Linked DNA regions of Homo sapiens: region 1 is linked to region 2. Evidence: fine-mapped expression QTL. A gene starts in region 2. The other region holds a variant in brackets. All regions are shown on one strand. Distances are between the middles of the regions.

Region 1 (4,399 bases), 510 kb before region 2:
AACTCTGAAACTTTTAACAGAAAACTGATCCCTCGGTCCCGAAGAGAGAGGCGCGGCAAAGCAACAGCCAGTTCTCTCCCTCATCCCCTTCCAGATAAATTTCCTTTTCTCCTACTCCTCGCTGGGGTTTGCGGTGCCCCTGCCTCCTGCATGAAAGCGCGCTCTAAAGCTAGGGTTTTTGGACTTTAGGAGCGCTTCTCGCCTCCCCCTAGACGTTTGAAGCCTTCCAATTGAGCAAGGGCTGGGAAGCGAGAAGGCTCCTCTGGTCTCTCCCTCCTCTGAGCGCGGGACCTCGGCGGACACCCTAATCCCGAAACACTCCTCTCTGGGACTGCGCACTTGCCAGCACGACAGCCAACTCCGCCTCAGAGGAGTCTTTTAGGGCTCTGAGCGAGTGGCGAATGCTCCCCCGGTGATGCACTATCGCTCCCACCCACGCCCTGGTACGCGCAGCCCGGGAAAAAGAAAAAAAAAAGTCCACGTAGGGGCTCAAACCCAGGCGTCAGGCGCTGCAGTCAGGGAAGGCTCCCTTAGGGGCTGGGTTCCTGGCGCTTACGACGCAGAGAAGGATAAGGGCGATGGTTTCGCAATCCCACCCCCTCCTTTGTCCTCCTCCCCACCTCCCAGCCTTTGGCGGCTTAGATCTCCAAATGCAGTCTGGATGGCACTCAGGTATTCGAGCGCCCCAGTTTATCTTATCACCGCCCCCTACAAATACACATCCATTCCAGATTGGCTTCTGGGAAAAGATACGGGGGTAGGGGATCCCACATATTTCCTCTCACCCTCCCTCTTTGGTCCTTGACGCCGAGAGTCTTCTCTGTTTCTCCGTACCCTTAGGTCATCGTCCAGGGCAGAGGTTAATTTAGACATCTTGACTGCAACAACTGATAACACTTACATACATGTATGAATATATCAACAATACATTATATGTAGTATATATTATATAATATAAAATCAATATATACTTAACGTACTTGCATGAGTTAAAAAAAAAATACCCAGCAACCCAAAAGCCACCAGATTACCAACTCTTGCGCCTCCCAATTCCTCGAAGTGAAGGCAATCACTATTAGTTTCTCCTGTGTATTTCTGGGGCTATAATGTTATGTTTGCACCAGCAAGTACGTAAGCGCACCTGAATTTCTCTTTATCTGTCCCCCACCCATCTGCACGCTTTTATACACTTTATTAACCACCTTGCTTTTTTCACTTATAATATATCTTTAAGTTAGTTCCTTGGAGACGTCGGAGTTTTTGCTAGCTTGACATCCCGGGCTCACAACTGGCGGGAAATAGCTTAAAAATTATATTGATGCTTTGAGGCCTTTCCTTGCAGCTGCTTGCGCCCACAAGCTGCAGTCCTTTCCCCGGTCAGCAGCCGGCTGTCCCGCACCCCCCGGCAGAGCGCAGAGGGTCGAAAGATTTGCGCCGCAGAAGACGCAGCGTCCCCTTGCGCTGCGTGTGCGGAACCCCGCTGTGAGAGTTTCCCTTTCACTGAGACTCCTTCATTGTTTGTCCTCTGAGACCCCCAAAGCAGGTAAACAAGCACTGATACCCTGCCCTGTGATCAGAAGCTCTTGGGCCAGGGAGCGATCTGCTAGATGGTCCCAGTGCTGCCTTAGGTCAGATCAAAGCGGAGGACCTAGAGGGAACCGTCAGCCCCATTAACATCCCGCTCTGCTTGCCAGCTGGGGCCTGAAGAGGGTTGGGCAGGTGTGGGCCAGGAATTGCTTGTTACCTAAGGTCCAGGGAGCGACCCCATCTGAAACACTTCCTGAATTCTCCTCGGCCCCAGTGGCAACTCTTGGAAGATGCTGAAGTTCCTTACATTTCTCAGAAGTCGCACTGTAAAATTCAGTTGATTCCACAATATTAGAAAACACTTGTTGACCTAGTATGTGTGTCAGACATTGCACGAGGTGCTGGGGTACAAAAGTGGATGATGTTGGATCCGGACAACATCAAGTCAGCAAATAAGAGAGTATCAGAATATCGAGGTATCAGTCAAACGGGGTAATGCGGTGGTTCCCAATCTTGGCTGCATATTAGAATAATCTGGAGAGTTCTTAAAAATCCTAATGCCCAGGTAGCACCACGGAACAATTAAATCAGAATTTCTGGCGGTGAGACAAGGCATCAGGATTACTTAATGATCCCCAGGTGGTTCCAATATGCAGCAAACTTATGGGTTGGTGGAGGCTCTTTATGGAGAGTTGACATTTGAGCTGAGACAGCAATAGGGAGGTGGCAGTCAGGAGAAGGCGTGTGGGAACACCCCGCGACCAGCCCTGAGTCTGCTGATGCTCTGGGATTGGCAGTGGGGGAGGGAAAAAGAGGACATTTGACAAGTAGAAGGAAATATGTGATGCAGAGCATCTAGTCACAGTTCACTGCATCCCTGGGAAGTCTCTCAATTGCCCAATTCCATAGGAAAGCTTTAAACAACACTAAAAAATATCTACCTTAAAATGATGGATTTTTACATGCAATTTTAAAACTAAATAATGCATAAAAATATATGAAAAATAGAATAATGCTAGAAAGCTTTTAACAGCAACTTCGTGATGTATTACGTGAGGACATTTCAACAAATCTAAGATGCCATCCATTGATATGCCTAACTGATGTGTTCACCACAAAGAAAACAAAAGCTGTGTCCTAGAATTTTAATTTTGTGCTTATTGAAATA[ATT/A]TTTTTTTTTTTGAGATTGAATCTTGTTCTGTTGCCCAAGCTGGCGTGCAAGATCTTGGCTCACTCCAACCTCCACCTCTCAGGTTCAAGTGATTCTCCTGCCTCAGCCTCCCAAGTAGCTGAGATTACAGGTGCATGCCACGATGCCCTGGTAAATTTTTTTTTTTTTTTTTTTGTATTTTTAGTAGAGACGGAGTTTCACCATGTTGGCCAGGGTGGTCTCGAACTCCTGACCTCAGGTTATCCACCTGCTTCAGCCTCCTAAAGTGCTGGGATTACAGGTGTGAGCCACCATGCCCGGCCAATAATTGCTTATTTAGAGAAAGTATTATTTTCGTATTTCACTCATGCACACATAAAATGGACAATAAAAGCTGTATTCACAAGCAGTGACAGCTATTTCAGAACTGCCATCTGATCAACAGTAGTGGTAAGACACCATTGCTTGTAGAATGTATCTTATTTCTAAGAAGTTAAAAGATGTGTCATAGAATTAATGCAAGTCAGTGTTGTCCAATGAGCTCACTACTCTCAGTGCTTTACATCTTTTAGTTCATTTAGTCCTTACTATGATATGATATGAGGTAGGAACAATTATTTATTAACAACATTTATAGGTGAGAAAATTGAGACATTGAAAGCTAAGTTACTTTAAGTCAGACCATTACCAAGTTGCAGAGATAGGGCATAAACCCACCGAGGGCTTAATTACAATAGGAGCCTGAGAAAATTGTCCACATGAGCCAACTGAGACTCAGAAGTGTTGAAAGGAGGGGTACAGGGTGAGAAGTGAGAGAAAGGGTTTGAGAACTCAATTAAGTTGTAGGTTGGGATCTGCTTCTCTGCTTGATCTGTCTCATAATATTTTAGGAGTAGAAGGAATCATGTGGTAAGACAATACTATATAGCCAAGAGTATTCTTATCCATTAAAATAAGAAAGAGATGATAAAATACACAGTTATCATCTTATTTCTTAAAAATAAGAAAGAGATGATAACTATATTTTCAGGCCATAATTTTCAAGTAAACTTTAAAAAATAAACCTAAAGTAAATACATACAAAAAAGTACAAGTATTCTAAATTCACAACTTGATATGTTTTACCAAATTGAACACACTTGTATAACCAGCATCCATGTTAAGAAATCCATTATTGCCCAAATTCCAGATGCTTCACATTCTTCCTTCTGCTCACTGCTTCCCATGAGGTAACCATCATTTTGACTTTTGTAACCATTGATTAGTTTTCCCTGTTTTTGAGTTTTATATAAATGGAATCTTATACTGTGTTCTTCTTTGTGTGTGGCTTCATTCACTCAACATGTGTTTGGGATTCACTCATGTTGTACTGCATACGTGCATTTGTTCCATCTCCTTGCTGTGTCATATCTCATTGTGTAAATATATAATTTTTCCATTCTGCTGTTGAAGACATTTGTGTTGTTTCTAGTTTTTGGGTTATTATATATAGGGCTGATATGAACATTCTTGTACATGTCCTTTGGTGAATATCTGTATAGTCTTTCTGTCAGGCCTGTACTCACAGGAGTGGGATTGCTGGGACACAGAGGTCAGACTATATTTTTTAAGAGAGTTAGTAACATTTAAAAATTTTTGGCTATTTGAAGATGGTACCTTATACTCTTAATATTTAAATGTAATAATTTTATGGAGTATTAAGGGAAGGGATATCAAGTTAAA
Region 2 (4,399 bases):
ACTATTATGTATCAGGTATTGGGCTACCGTTTTTGCTAGTGCTTCTCCTGGTGTGATACGTCTAGCAGTTCATTCTATGGGGCACACAAAACCCATGATATTACAGATACTGTTGCTTAGGATAAGGCTAAAGTAAATAGTGCCTATTTAAGTGTTTTTAAAAATGTGTTGATTTAAAAACAAATGTTAAATAGTAATGTTTCAAGTAATAGCTATGGCAGAAATGGTAGAAGTGGTCCTTTAAAGTCTTTCAAATGCATTGTATGATATCACATTTATTCCTCAGAACAACCTTGTAAATTGGAAACCAAAGTCCAGAAAAATAATAGAACTTACTCAACTCACTAAGATAACAGATCAAACTTTCCTCCTTTACCATAATACCCTTTTGCATATAGAAAGATTTAGTTTAATTCTTGAATATGGGTGTCTGACCTGTGTTTTCATACTCCATCTCCTCAAAAAGATTGCTTTAGCTTTCTAAATCAAATCCTTCACCTTCAGAACAATAAAAGAGGCATACCAGAGTCATTTTGGTGTATTTCTAAGCATATTTACAAAATATACAAGGAAAAGGACCTGATTCCCTGGCTGGGTGAGTGAAACGTTAATTCTTCACCTTGGCACCTCAACCTACAGCTGTAATAAGGGCCGTTATGCCCAAATAGGCCCTTAAACGGAAGACCTGCTGAGCAGAGACCCACTTTCCCAGCCCTGCTCAACTGCCTCAGCTTTTCTGCCAACTGACCAGGCGGAAGCAGCAGCAGGGGAGGAGGGACTGCAGGTAGGTGGGGAGGGGATCATTTTGAAAGCCCTGAATCCCTTGCAGGGAAGAAGCAGCTGCTCCTTGTTTTTCTAAACATCTGTCCCATCTGTCCCAGGCCTCAGCTCACCCTTTCGTGGCTCGAGCCAGTTAAACGTGAATTTGACAAGGAAGCACTTCTGAAGGCTGGTTTGTGAGTGGAAATGAACCTAAGTGCCACCTAGAAAGTTTCTTCTATTGAGAAGAGGTGAGTAGTGGGTCTTCAGCGGGACGGCTATTACCTTCCTTCATTTTACTCTCACAAAACATACAGCTTTTACTGATAGAGGCAGGATTTGTAACATCACCCAAATCATACTGTACGTCCTGAGGATATTATTTCACAACATAGAGGTACTTCTAGAGCCCATATTTTAACGTCTAGGAGAGCCACAGTCTTTGATTTGAAGGAGAAATAACGATATTGCACACACCATATCACCTTTATGGTAGAACAAGCTGTGAACAACTAGTGCGTGTGGCGTTTATCACATTTAACAGCGTGTTGCTTTTATTTGTCTCCTCTGCCACACTGCTCCTTGAGAACAGGGACGTTATTTTTATTGTTATTTTCCCCTCGTATTCAGAACCGTGGCTGGAACTTGGCAGGCATGAAATAGACATTTATGAATGAATGAACGTTAACGAAGAAAAAAAAAGGAACTGGATGATTCATTTGGTTCTCCGAAGGCGGGTATGGGGGACGGGGCTCGGACTTTGGCCCAGTCACCGAGTGAGGCACAGTCCCAAAGTCCTGCAGGTCCGCCTCCAGTCACGGCCGACCCGGGTCTGCAACTGGTGCACAAGCCTCCTGAAGCGAGGCTGCGCGCGTCCTGCACGGTCCCGCCCCAAAGGCACGCAGACACGCCCCCTTTCCTGGTCATTCCCCCTGCGAAGTCAGTTCCACTCTAGTTACAGGATTGGGGCGGGGCCAGAAAGGCGCAGGCGCAACGGGCGGCGGAAGTAGGAGCCTGGGAAGGAAGAGGGAACGGGTCCTGGCGGTGCTTTGCAAAGGGCCCGTGTTTCTGTTGCGGGAAGCTCCCGGGGGTCGCACGTGCGTCCGAGCCCAAGCCCCTCCCCTCCACTCCCCTTCCTGCGTGCCCCGGAGCCGCCAAGCGGCTACGTTCTTCTCGGCCCGCCGAGATGGCGCTCGACCCCGCAGGTACCGGGGCGGGAAGCGGGGTTTGCCGAGGGGCCTCGCCCCGGGTCTCACGCCGCGGGCCATGCGGGCTGGATGCCGACCTGGGAAAGGTGCAGAGCTCTGGGTAGCATTGCTTCCACCAGCGTCTCCTCATACCCGGCGGCTGCTTCGCCCGGTCTGAGGTCATCTTCTCACTTGTTGGGGATTATGGTTATCTGAGGTTGCGTTTGTTGTCTAAAGTATCATCCATTGTGGTTTCCAACTTAACGCGACTAGTCTCTTCATTGTCACCCTCTTTTCGCCCCTTAAGGTCACAGATGCATTTAATGTATGCTGCAGACACTCTGGCCCCAGAAAAATTTGTATATTTGTTCTGGCGCACAGTTTTACATTTCTGTTTGGGAGTTCATGGACCCCGAGTTCATCCTTGTAACCCAACTTAAAAACATATTTCAAAGGATCCATCACTATGGCAGGAGTCAGTTTCTTTGGAAAGGATCTTCAAAATCTTGAATGTTGTTTTAATCTCTTTGCTTCCAGCCACTTCCGTTTGCAGCAATAGTTAACTTACCCTCGAATTCCCGTCCTTGTGGAAGGTCACCTGCAGTATCTTTGCGTTAGGCTATTTTTGCAAGGGAATAGATAACATTTTTGGAGGGAATGGTAGTTGGTCTAGTCCATTTCTTTCATTTTATGGATACAAAAAGTCAAAACATTGAGAGGTAAATGGCGTCAAACTTGGGAGATTCAGAAATGGAAAATGCTCTTTCGGAGCCTTCAAGGAGCATGGAAAATATATGTAGCACAGAAATAATGTTTTAATTGAACATGTTATTACCATGCTAAGTGTTCTCTATTATCCAACAATAATATGTGGTATGGTAGGTCCTTTTAGCTCCATTTTACAGATTAGGAAACTGAGGCGAAGAGAAGTTAAGTGACTAGTCCAGCAGGTAGTGGTAGATCAGGGAGTACTCTAATTTGAAGCATAGAGGAGTTCTGGAACATAATGATCATATTCATTTTGGACTAGGTGGTTATGAAGCAGTTAGCAGTTGATCTGGGCTTTGAGGGATGGAATTTCCAGTGGTTGGAGCTGGAGAAGAGGCAGCCCTATGAGCAAAGGTTTAGATAGTAAGGTGCACTGTGCGATGCTTGGTTTCAGGATGACTACCATGATTTGGTTCTTGAGGGTAGAAGGGGTAGAGTATAAGTGAGGGGTGAGTAAGGAAGGTTCAAGTTTAGGCCCATATAATTTATGGTATCTTTTTTTTTTATTTTACTGAAACGGAGTCTCACTGTCGCCCAGGCTGGAGTGCAGTGGCGCTATCTCGGCTCACTGTAGCCTCCGCCTACTGGGTTCAAGCAATTCTCCCACCGCAGCCTCCTGAGTAGCTGGGATTACGGGCGCCCGCCACCACGGCCGGCTAATTTTTGTATTTTTAGTAGAGATGAGGTTTCGCCGTGTTCGCCATGCTGGTCTGGAACTCCTGACCTCAAGTGATCTGCCTGACTTGGCCTCCCAAAGTGCTGGGATTACAGGTGTGAGCCACCGCACCCAGCCTAATTATGGTACTTCTGAACTTGAAGTGACCTTTAAAGTAATCTCATACGGATGAGGAGACTGAGAATGAGAGAGGTTAAAGATTTCCATATATCTACACTTTTTGAATTTAGACAAGGAAATTTGGGAAAAAAGTCTTCATACTTGCTCTCTTCACTTGCTTACCTTCCAGTTACTCATAAGCCACTCCAATCTTGTGTTGTACCCAAGGCCACACAGCTAGTTGCTGGTAGAGTCAAGTCTGGTTAGAACCTAGGTAATTTCATTTCCAGTCCAGTGCTGTAGACCATGCCACCTTTTGAGTATTGATTAAACAAAGACTTGTTGAGTGTCTGGTATATGTCCCATATTGTTCTGGACCCTAGGGAACAGTAGTACATAGGACAAACAAAATTCCTGCTCCCAATAAAGCTTATCTAGTGGTAGAAAAAACAATTAACACCCCCTTTTCCCCCTACACAGACACGTGCGTGGGCACACACACATACACACACACATTTTTACAGATTGTGATAAACATGAAGAAAATAATGTCATGTGGTAGATGGTGAAGAGATTAGTCAGTGAAGAGCTTTATGAGGAAGTGTCATTTGAATTGGAATCTGAGGGATGAGAGGAAGCTAGGCAGAGTGTGCTTGGCCATCAGGTAGCAAATACTTAAAATATTTAACTTGAACGTGGGTCAGAGTGTGGAGGGGATCCATAAGGAAAGATATTGGGAAAGTAGGTAGTCACTAAATGCCTAGATATTGCAGAGGCTGCAAGTCCTCAAAGGCTGGCTGTGATAATAAAGCATTTGGATTTTTTCTAATGGCATCAAATGCCTTTAGAATCTTTTAAAGAGGGCAGTAACATAATTTATGTGTTTATTATCCTCGCTACAGTGGTAGCA

Evidence for each region. PIP is the estimated chance that this variant, and not a neighbour inherited with it, causes the effect.
Region 1: its variant is the best candidate, but not a certain one, in a credible set for the expression of CMC1 in whole blood (INTERVAL, PIP 0.59).

Annotation. Positions count from the first base shown.
Region 1 is chr3:27,729,865-27,734,263 of GRCh38, forward strand. No RefSeq gene overlaps it. Among named protein-coding and RNA genes, the nearest start is that of EOMES, 9.7 kb to the left of the region's middle. RefSeq lists enhancers at 1-221, 222-1,153. The variant ATT/A (reference allele first, on the strand shown) is at 2,696.
Region 2 is chr3:28,239,849-28,244,247 of GRCh38, forward strand. CMC1 (C-X9-C motif containing 1) reads left to right here and starts at 1,771. Exons shown (of 4, transcript NM_182523.2): 1 at 1,771-1,964. The coding sequence starts at 1,946. RefSeq lists a silencer at 1,984-2,063.